2 separate regions of the Homo sapiens genome follow, and region 2 is linked to region 1. The links come from fine-mapping of genetic effects on gene expression. A gene starts in region 1. The other region holds a variant in brackets. All regions are shown on one strand. Distances are from middle to middle.

Region 1 (5,370 bases):
TTCTAGGACTTCTGCAGAAATATCTTGAACCTTCCTGCAAGTTCCCAGGCAGCTTGGAGACCTCTTTTCTCAAGACATTTGTGTCCTACATTCCCACAGGGCTCCAACCCTCCTCAGTTTCAGATTTTTTTTTTTTTCGAGACAGAGTCTTGCTCTGTCGCCCAGGCTGGAGTGCAATGGCGTGATCTCGGCTCACTGCAACCTCCGCCTCCCAGGTTCAAGTGATTCTCCTGCCTCAGCCTCCCAAGCAGCTAGGATTACAAGCATGTGCCACCATGCCTGGCTAATTTTTTTATTTTCAGTAGAGACGGGGTTTCTCCATGTTGGCCAGGCTGGTCTCGAACTCCTGACCTCAGGCGATCTGCCCGTCTTGGCCTCCCAAAGTGCTGGGATTACAGGCGTGAGCCACTGTGCCCAGCCAGTTTCAGATTTTCTAAGGTTCTGCAACTGCCCAAGGAACTGGCCTGAACCACCAAGAATTCTTCCCCAGAAAGGAAAGATAGCCCCATGTTCATGCTAGGACAACACAAAAGCCTATTTTGTTTTGCAAAGTAATGTTCTCCAGGATAGCTTTTAAGAAAATAGGCTCTGGCATGTGGATAGGCAAAAATAGAATAAAAATTCCTAGCAAATAGAGTGTAATCCTGTTAGCATAAGAGCGTGCATTGGCTGGGTGCAGTGGCTCACGTCTGTAATCCCAGCACTTTGGGAGGCCTAGGTGGGTGGATCACAAGGTCAGGAGATCGAGACTATCCTGGCCAACATGGTGAAGGCTTGTCTCTACTAAAAATACAAAAATTAGCCAAGTGTAGTGGCGGGTGCCTGTAGTCCCAGCTACTCAGAAGGCTGAGGCAGGAGAATCGCTTGAACCTGGAAGGTGGAGGTTGCAGTGAGCCGAGATCACGCCACTGCACTCCAGCCTGGGCGACAGAGCGAAACTCCATCTAAAAAAAAAACCGCAAAAAAAAAAAAAAAAAAAAAAGCGTGCATTTACGTTTATAACTATATAGCCGTAAATGAATAGAAGAGACATCAAGAAAGGTGGCTGGCCACCAGTATGTTGACAGTAATTCTCTTTTTTTCCTTTGCCCTTTTCAGTTTGAGTTTTTAGTAAACAGGGGCGCTTATTTTTATCCTCTGAGAATAAAGCTATTTCCTTTCTGAGCTATAGTGGTAATTTACATCTAAGTGGGAGAAAGGCTTATGAAGTTTGGGGTTCCTTTATTTTTCTAAGCCTAAAATCTATTATCTAGTAAGTTGCTGGTGTTCTAGAATAACGGTGAACAAGAAACATTTAAACATTTGTTCACGGTGAACCTTTTATAAAAATAGAACACGTTCTAAGGAAGCCATTCATCCTCATTTTAAAAATTAAGAAGCAGGCTGTACCCTCCTGTGACCTCCCCAGCGTGGAGTCTGGAGCTGAGATGGAGGACACTGACCCCAAGTCACCCAGCCTTGGGGCCGGTTCTGCTCCGTAAGTGGAAAGGATCTGGAGCCAGGGCTGGAAGAATTCCCGTGGGGGCTCGGAGATTCAGCACCGTGGGGGAAGGGAGGGGAGTGGAGGGTGCTGGGCAGTTGCAGTGGGGAGGAGAACCGGTGTCACTTTCGCTGAACCTGACCGCAGCCCCCAGCGCAGTGGCCCTTATAGACACTCCGCTGGCGCTCTCAATCCGCGTGCCAAGGTCAAGGAGGGAGGTCACACCTGCGCGCGGCCAGAACAGATGCACCGACCCCCACCTGCACCCTCGCCACAGCCGGCGCCCCTTGCCCAAGTTCCTGCAGCTCTGACCCAACCAGGAGCCCCGACCCCAAGCACCTGTTCCCCCTCCTCTAAACCCGCGCACGCCTCTCCTTCCCCTCCCCCAGCTTCATCGTCCTGGGGGCTTCTCCCCCGGGCTCACCCCGGCGTGAGAGAACCCCACGATTCTAGCGCCTGCCTACTCCCACGATGCAATCCTTGAACCTGTCCCTCGCTCCCTCCACCACGCACGGGCTTCCCCTCTCTGCGACCCCCGAGCTGCCCCGGCCCGCGCCACCCGCTGCCGGTCCCCTCCAGCCCCCCGCCCCGGCTCACCTGGCTCATACTTGAGGTAGAGGATGGAGACGATGAAGTAACTGAGGTCGAAGACGGGGAAGAGCGGCACCCGCGAGAAGCTGAGCGCCAGTTCGCCCAGGCTCAGCGCCGAGAGCAGCTCCATGGCGCCCGCCTGCCCGCCTGCCGGGTGCCACCCGGGGCCCCGGCCTCGTCCGTCCCGCCGCCCGCGGCCCGGCGACTGCGCCCCCGCAGCTGGGCCCGCCCCCGCCCGCCAGGCGCCACCCCAGGCCCGGCCCCCGCGGGAGAGGAGGGGCGACGGCCCACCCCGGGACAGGTGGTGGGGACGCCCAGCACCACGGACGCAGCTGGACGGTCGGGCGTCCCAGGCGTTGACCCTCCTGCCATCGCTACCCCGTTCCGCCCAGCGAGGCGGGGTGCGGGGCACCCGTGCAAGGCGAGGGAGGCTGGGGAGCTGCCTGTTCTGGGGGCCCGTCCCTCACGGAGCCCACCCACGCGGGACGCCCGTTCCCAGGGGGCCGGATCGGCCAGGACTTTGTCCCCGTGGGCTCAATTAGGACCCCGATCTTCGGTGGAGCCCAGTGAGGACCCCTACGCCATGGTGGGACCCCATGAATCAGAACCCCTGTTCCCCGTGGAGATAGGTTAGGACCTCGGTCCTCTGTGGAGCCCCGTCAAGACTTTTCTGCCCCATAGGGTCCGTTCGATCAGGAACCCCGTCTCCGGTGGGGCTCTGCAAATCAGGACGTCTTGTGGGGGGCAGCTCAGTGGGAACCCCCGTTCCCCATGGGGCCCAGGAGGATCTCATTTTAGAGCCCAGTTGGTTGGGGCACCCGTTTCTAGGGACCCCACTGCGTCAGGACCCCGCACCCTGTGCAGCTCAGGAGTCAAAGGATTCCTTTTGTCCAGAAGCCCAATTTGGGACCCCAGAAAGTGAGTAGGAATTGCTGCCCAGCTAACCCTACGGCATCGAGACCTCACGCATGCGCGGCACGCTTCGAACGCGTGACCCAATCCCGCCCCCAGGAGACCCCGCTCCTCCCATTCTGGCTCTCGGGGCCTCCCCAGCGAGGTGGGGCGCTCGCGCTCCCCTAAGGGGGTCTGGCCTGCAGAGGGCGGGACCCTCCCAGCCTTGACCTTCGATTGGCCCAGCCCTCGCCACTGTTGCTTTAGGATTGGTCGGCTTGTGCTCCTCTCCCCTCCCTCCCTGGGGCTTCCGCTTCCGGTTCTGACGGACGCTTCGGCCGTAACGATGATCGGAGACATCCTGCTGTTCGGGTAATTAGGGGGACCAGAGGCTGGGAAGAGAGAGCCAGGCAGGACGCGGGGGCGCCCCTAGTAACTGTAATTCTCCCTCTGCAGGACGTTGCTGATGAATGCCGGGGCGGTGCTGAACTTTAAGCTGTGAGTAGGTCGCGGCCGGACTGCGGCTCCATCCGGGGAACCCGTAGCCCCGCCCTCATAAGCGTGATCTCGGCGCACTTCTCAGGCCCCGCCCCCAAGCCGCAGGCCCCGCCCTATCCGCCCTCTGGGCACGCCTCCAGCCTGGTTTATCTTCCTCGCCCCCCACCCCCCGAGAGACCTTAAACCCATACTCTCCGTTCCTTGGTTGTCCCTCTGTTCACCTTCCTGGAGAGCTTAAGCCCCATCCCCCAAGAAATAGCCCCACCGCGGACCTTCCGCCCTGCACCCGCACTGTCGGGCCACTTTGTAAACGGTCGGTGGCTGCTGACCTGGCTGTGATTGTCCGGGCAGTGGGGGCCCAGAGAAGGGTATTGAACGTCAGAGGTCACACAGCAAGTTTGCGGCAGGGCCAGGGCTGAAACTTAGTGTTTGTGGCCTTCTGAGCTGGGGGTCAGGGGGCTGAGGACTCTATGTCCCATTGAAAGTGGACACTGTCTGCTCCTCTTTGTAGGAAAAAGAAGGACACGCAGGGCTTTGGGGAGGAGTCCAGGGAGCCCAGCACAGGTAAGGTCTAATTGGATCCTGGAATTGCATGGTCCACTTCAGAGGACAGTTCTGTTTCGCCAAGCCCTACCTTCGTTTTCTTTCTTTCTCTTTTTTTTTTTTTTTTTTTTTTGACACAAGGTCTTGCTCTGTTGTCCAGGTTGGAGTGCAGTGGTGCGATCATGGCTCACTGCAGACTCGACCTCCTGAGCTAAAGTGATCCTTCCACCTCAGCCCCCTTAGTAGCTGGGATTACAGGTGTGTGCCACCATGCCAGGCTAAATTTTGTATTTTTTGTAGAGATGGGGTTTCTCCACGTTGCCCAGGCCGGTCTCGAACTCCTGGGTTCAAGTGATCCCTGCCTTGGCCTCCCGAAGAGCTGGGATTACAGGCGTGAGCCACAAGTTTTCTCTTTAATTGAGCGTGTGTGTGAGTGGGAGATGACTGAGAATGTGCTAGCCTTTCTGCCTACCTCTGTCATCTATTTCTTTCTCCTACCAGACCTCCCTGATGTGAGCACTCACATCACTTCCTACCGTTATAATGTTCTGTTATGTTTGCTGTCATCTGGCTAATGTCTGCCCCTCACATATGACTGTAAACTTCAGAGAAGAGGCCCTAGCTTGGCTTGTCCCATCCTTTGTTCTTGCCGTACCCGTCCTCCGATGCCTGTGAATGAATGAATGAACAACCTCACACATAGCTGTTGCTTTCAGAGTGCTGCAGACCTGCCACTTTTAAAATTAGATGCCAACATTAGATTTTTAATCAGGAGATTTTATATAAAAATTAAGATGTCTGATTTTTCTTGAAAAATTGGAACATTCTGCAACTCAAGATTCAGGAGAGCTGTTTGCATCTATTGAGTGTAGTTGAGAAGGACTCTGAGGAGGTGGGGCCTGTAGACTCTGCCTCATCCCAGCCCTAACCCCTTCATATGTCTATCATCTGCCTGGGCCCTGGAGGCCCCAGAATTTACACTTCCTGCTGAATTTGATTGTGTAACTATTTGGAGTCTTAAGGGGATCTGTACATGACTATTGTATCCATTCATTAATTCTTTCATTCACCAGATATTTGAGTACCTAACGCATGCTGGCTACTGTGCTAGGTGCTGGGGTACAGCAGGGGTAAGACAGATAGAGTGGAACTTACCATGGGGTGGGACACATGGTTTCTAAGCAGGGAATAGATAGTGACAGAGGTGACGTTAGGTGACAGAGGCAGGGAGTCACAGGATGGTGATGGGGTTGCCCTCCTGCTGGGGTGTGGAAGGGAAGGCCATTTGAGGAGGCGGCGTCACAGTCAAGGCGGTGGATGCCATGATGGAGCACTGCCCAAGGATGGGGGAACCCTGAGGAACAGAG
Region 2 (5,370 bases), 36 kb before region 1:
GGCTTGCACACCCCCTTCGCAGACTAGGCTGGGAGGCTATTTTGGTACAATCTGTTCTCTTGGAAAATGAGATCTCAGAACATTAGTGCCAGAAGGCAGGGAGCCGACTTATCTCCAACACCCACCAGATGCTAAATGAACCCGACCAGGGGTTCTGTGAGCACTTTGACAGAGGCAGCTTTTGTCCCAACTCCAGACCTCACTTTGTGCCAAGGACTTTCCAGTCACTCCTCCTAGCCATCCTAAGAGGAAATTGAGGCTCAGAGAAGGGGAGTTACTTGCCCAAGCTACGTATCTCGGAGATTAAAAGCCAGGGTTTGGCCAGGCATGGTGGCTAACACCTGTAATCCCAGCACTTTGGGAGACCGAGGCGGGTAGGATCACTTGAGGTCAGAAGTTCAAGACCACCCTGGCCAACATGTTGAAACCCTGACTCTACTAAAAATACAAAAATTAGCCAGGCATGGTGGCTCTTGCCTGCAATCCCAGCTACACGGGATGCTGTGGCAGGAGAATCACTTGAACCCGAGAGGCGGAGGTTGCAGTGAGCCAAGATGGCACCACTGCACTCCAGCTTGGGCAACAGAGTGAGAATCTGTCAAAAAAAAAAAAAAAAAAAAAAACAAAGACAGGATTTGAACAGATTTGGGAAACCCCAAAGGCTGCTCTCTTTTTCCTTTTCTTTTTAGATTAAGGTAGAATTTAGCCACAAAATTCTGCAAGGTTTTTTTTGTAGTGTTTCTTTGTGGGTTTTTTGTTTTGTTTGTTGTTTGTTTTTTTGTTTGTTGTTTTGAGACAGGTCTGGCTCTGTTGCCCAGGCTGCAGTGCAGTGGTGCAATTTCGGCTCACTGCAACCTCTGCCTCCCAGGCTCAAGTGATTCTCCCACATCAGCCTCCTGAGTAGCTAGGACTACAGGCACATGCCACCATGCCCGGCTAATTTTTGTATTTTTTGCAGAAATGGGGTTTCACCATGATACCCAGGCTAGTCTCAAAGTCCTGGCCTCAGGTGATCCTCCCACCTCAGCCTCCCAAAAGGGCTACGCTGCCGGGCGAATTCTGCAAGTTTATACAAACATATACAGTTGTGTAACTACTGCCACGTTAAAAATGCAGAACAGTCCCTTCCCTCCCAAAATTCCTCTGTCTCTCTTGTGGATAATCTCTCCTTCCATCTCAACTCCTGGCAGCCACTGATCTGTTTTCTATACTTAAAATTTTGTCTTTCCTTTTCTTTTCTTTTTTTTTTTTTTGAGACGGAGTCTCGCTCTGTCACCCAGGCTGGAGTGCAGTGGTGCACGATCTCAGCTCACTGCAACCTCTGCCTCCTGGGTTCAAGCAATTCTCCTGCCTCAGCCTCCTGAGTAGCTGGGACTACAGGCACCTGCCACCCCCAGCTAATTTTTGTATTTTTAGTAGAGGCAGGGTTTCAGGCTGGTCTCAAACTCCTGACCTCAAATGATCCACCCACCTCGGCCTCCCAAAGTGCTGGGATTACAGGTGTGAGCCACTGCACCTAGCCCAAAATTTTGTATTTCTAAAATGACCTACAGCCGAGTATGTGGCACGCACCTGCAATCCCTGCCACTCAGGAGGGTGAGGCGGGAGGATCCCTTGAGCCTGGGAATTTGAGGCTGTAATGATCCATGTTCCTGCCACTGCACTCCAGCCTGGGTGACAAAGCAATACCCCATCTCTAAAGATAAAATGTCCCGCCAATGGGAGCACACAGTCTCTTGGGTCTGGATTCTTTCATTTAGCAAATGCATTTGAGATTCAACCACACTGCTGTAGAAGGTCACTCCTTTTCATTGCTGTGTAATGTTCCATCACATGCATAAACCAGGTGGCTCATCCGCTTACCAACTGATGGACATTTGGGATGTTCCCAGTTTTTGGTGATTACCAAAAAAAAAAAAAATAGGTGAATTTTTGTTTCACCACAATGGGACTGTTGTGTTTATAGGGTAAGTGATGTTTAATTTAATAAGAAACTATCAGGGATTGTTGTGTTTATAGGGTAAGTGATGTTTAATTTAATAAGAAACTATCAGTCTGGGCAAGGTGGCTCACACCTGTAATCTCAGCACTTTGGGAGGCTGAGGCAGGAGGATCACTTGAGCCCAGGAGTTTCAGACCAGCCTGGGCAACAGGGCGAGACATCATCTATATAAAAAATACAAAAATTATCTGGATGTGGTGATGTGTGCCTGTAGTCCCAGCTACTCAAGCGGCTGAGGCGGGAGGATCACATGAGCCCAGGAGGTCGAGGCTGAAGTGACCTATGACTGCACCACTGGACTCCAGCCTGGATGACAGAGTGATACCCTATCTCAAATAAATACATAAATAAATAAATTTAAAAGAAACTGTCCAATTGTCTCCCACCAGCAGTGTGCGAGCTCCAGCTGCCCCCAAATCTTTACCTGCACCAGGCATTGTCAGTTACTTTAATTTAATCCATCCTTAAAGGACGCTGGACACAGAGACTCACATCCCTTTGTTTTGGGAGACCAAGGTAGGAAGATCACCTGAGTCCAAAATTAGCCCCAAGGTGATGGTATTAGGAGGTG[C/G]GGCCCTTGGGAGGTGATTAGGTCATGAGGATGTGGCCCTCATAATGGGATTAGTGCCCTTCCACAAGAGGCCCCCAAGAAACTCCTTGATCTTTCTACCATGTGGGGACACCAAAAGAAGACACCATCTGTGAACCAGATAGCCAGCCCTTACCAGACAGTGAATCTGCCAGCATTTTGATCTTGAACTTCCCAGCCTCCAGAACCATGAAAAATAAATTTCTGTTGTTTACAAGCCACCAGTTTATAGTATTTTGTTGTAGCACACTGAAAGGACTAAAACAGGAGATAAGGTCTTTTTTTTTTAAATTTTTTTAGCACCAAACTGATTGAGATAAGGTCTTTAAAGAGACAATTAAGTTAAAATAGTCAGTCAAGCAGGGTGGCTCACATGCCTGTAATCCCAGCACTTTGGGAGGCTGAGGTGGGTGGATCACTTGAGATCAAGAGTTTAAGACCAGCCTGGCCAACGTGGTGAAACTCCATCTCTACTAAAAATACAAAAATTAGCCAGGCATGGTGGCACGTGCCTGTAATCCCAGCTACTCGGGAGGCTGAGGCATGAGAATCACTTGAACCCGGGAAGTGGAGGTTGCAGTGAGCCGAGATGGCGCCACTGCACGCCAGCCTAGGCCACAAAGCCAGACTCCATCTCAAAAAAAAAAAAAAAGATAATTAAGTTTTAAAAAAAGTCTATAGGTGGGCCCTGATCTAATTCACTGGTGTCCTCGTAGGCAGAGGAGACTAGGATACAGACATACGAAGAGGGAAGACTATACGAGGACAGAGAAGGCGGCCGTCTGCCACCCAAGCAGAGAGGCCTTGAGAAACAAAACCAACTGACACCTTGATGTCAAACTTCCACCCTCAAGAATTAGGGAAAAATAAATGTCTGTGGCTTAAGCGACTCTGTCTGGAGTATGTTACTGCAGCCTATTCATTTATTTATGAGACAGGGTCTCACTCTGTCATCCACGCTGGAGTGCAGTGGTGCAATCTCAGCTCATTGCAGCCTCGAACTCCTGGGCTCAAGCGATCCTCCCACCTCTGCCTCCTGAGTAGCTGGGATTACAGGCTCACATCACCACAACTGGCTAATTTTTTTTTTTTTTTTTTTCTGCAGAGACTGGGTCTCACTGTGTTGGCCAGGCTGGTCATGAACTCCTCAGCTCAAGTGATCCTTTGGCCTCGGCCTCCCAAAGTGCGGGGATTACAGGCATGAGCCACCATGCCCAGACTTTTTTTCCTTATAATTGAAAGCTTCTTTTTTTATAGCTTTACTGAGGCATAACTGATAGATGAACTATGCATATATAAAATGAAAACTTTTAAGTACTTAGGTTGAATGAGTGGGAAAAAAAGAAGTAAAAAATAATTAATTAAAAATAAATAAAAAAGAGGCCGGCGTGGTGGCTCAAGCCTGTAATCCCAGCACTTTGGGAGGCTGAGGCAGGTGGGTCATTTGAGGCAAGGAGTTCGAGACCAGCCGGGCCAATATGGCAAAACCGTCTCTACTAAAAATACAAAAATTAGCCAGGCGTGGTGGTGGGCACCTGTAATCCCAGCTACTCTGGAGGTTGAGGCAGGAGAATTGCTTGAACCCAGGAGGCAGAGGTTACAGTGAGCCAAGATTGCACCACTGCCCTCCAGCCTGGGCGACAGAGCGAGACTCTGTCTCTCTAAATAAATAAATAAGAAAAAAGTTAATTTTTTTTTAAATCTTAAGTAATCAAAGCAAAATTTAGACCAGGCACAGGCACGGTGGCCCACGCCTGTAATCCCAGCACTTTGGGAAGCCGAGGCGGGCAGATCACCTGAGGTTAGGAGTTTGAGACAAGCTTGGCCAACATGGTGAAACCCTGTCTCTGCTAAAAATACAAAAATTAGCCAGGTATGGCGGTGGGCACCTGTAATCCCAGCTACTCAGGAGGCTGAGGCAGGAGAATCACTTGAACCCAGGAGGCAGAGGTTGCAGTGAGCCAAGATCGTGCCACTGCACTCCAGCCTGGGTGACAGAGCAAGACTCCATCTCAAAAAACAAAACAAAACAAAAACCCAAAAGTAAAATTTAATAGATTCAGACATGGGTATAGACCCAAGAAACCAGCACAATCAAAGCCATCAGCAGATCCATCACCCGAGTTTCCTGGTGCCACTGCAAAATTCCTCTCACCTGCCCTACCCTGTCCTTCTTTCCCCAACCACATGCTGATCAGCTTTCTGTTACAATAGTTTGCTTTTTCTAGGATTTCAGATAAATGGATGCCTATATTACACATTCTTTTTTGTATGGCTTTTTCCCACCAATCTGGATACATTCGAGACTCATTCATGTTTTTGCATGTTCACCACCTCCACCGCCTTTTTTTTTTTTTCGCTGAACAGTAGGCAATACTATGGGCGGAGCACAGCTGTTCATTTATTCACATTTTTGTTTTTTTAAAGACAGAGTCTTGCTCTGTCACCCATGCTTCAGTACAGTGGCACCATCACAGCTCACTGCAGCCTCAACCTCCTGGGCTAAAACAGTCCTCCGTCCTGCACCTCCCAAAGCCCTGGGATTATAGGTGTGAGTCACCCATGACCACCCTATGTTTAACTTATAGTGTTTTTGTTTTGTTGGTTTTTTTTTTTTGAGACGGAGTCTTGCTCTGTCACCCAGGCTGGAGTGCAGTGGCGCAATCTCAGCTCACTGCAACCTCTGCCTCCTGGGTTCAAGTGATTCTCCCGTCTTAGCCTCCTGAGTAGCTGGGATTACAGGCAGGTGCCACCATGCCTGGCTAATTTTTGTATTTTT

What was found. PIP is the estimated chance that this variant, and not a neighbour inherited with it, causes the effect.
Region 2: its variant is fine-mapped to the expression of SMIM7 in prefrontal cortex (GTEx, PIP above 0.99). The same link has a PIP of 0.9 or more in amygdala, atrial appendage, caudate, cerebral cortex and putamen.

The regions. Positions count from the first base shown.
Region 1 is chr19:16,658,049-16,663,418 of GRCh38, reverse strand. SMIM7 (small integral membrane protein 7) reads left to right here and starts at 3,275. Exons shown (of 5, transcript NM_024104.4): 1 at 3,275-3,334; 2 at 3,419-3,460; 3 at 3,972-4,024. The coding sequence starts at 3,309. TMEM38A (transmembrane protein 38A) reads right to left here and starts at 2,280. Exons shown (of 6, transcript NM_024074.4): 1 at 2,078-2,280. The coding sequence starts at 2,201. RefSeq lists an enhancer at 1,119-1,927 and silencers at 2,213-2,462, 2,483-2,682.
Region 2 is chr19:16,693,821-16,699,190 of GRCh38, reverse strand. No RefSeq gene overlaps it. Among named protein-coding and RNA genes, the nearest start is that of NWD1, 23 kb to the left of the region's middle. The variant C/G (reference allele first, on the strand shown) is at 2,574.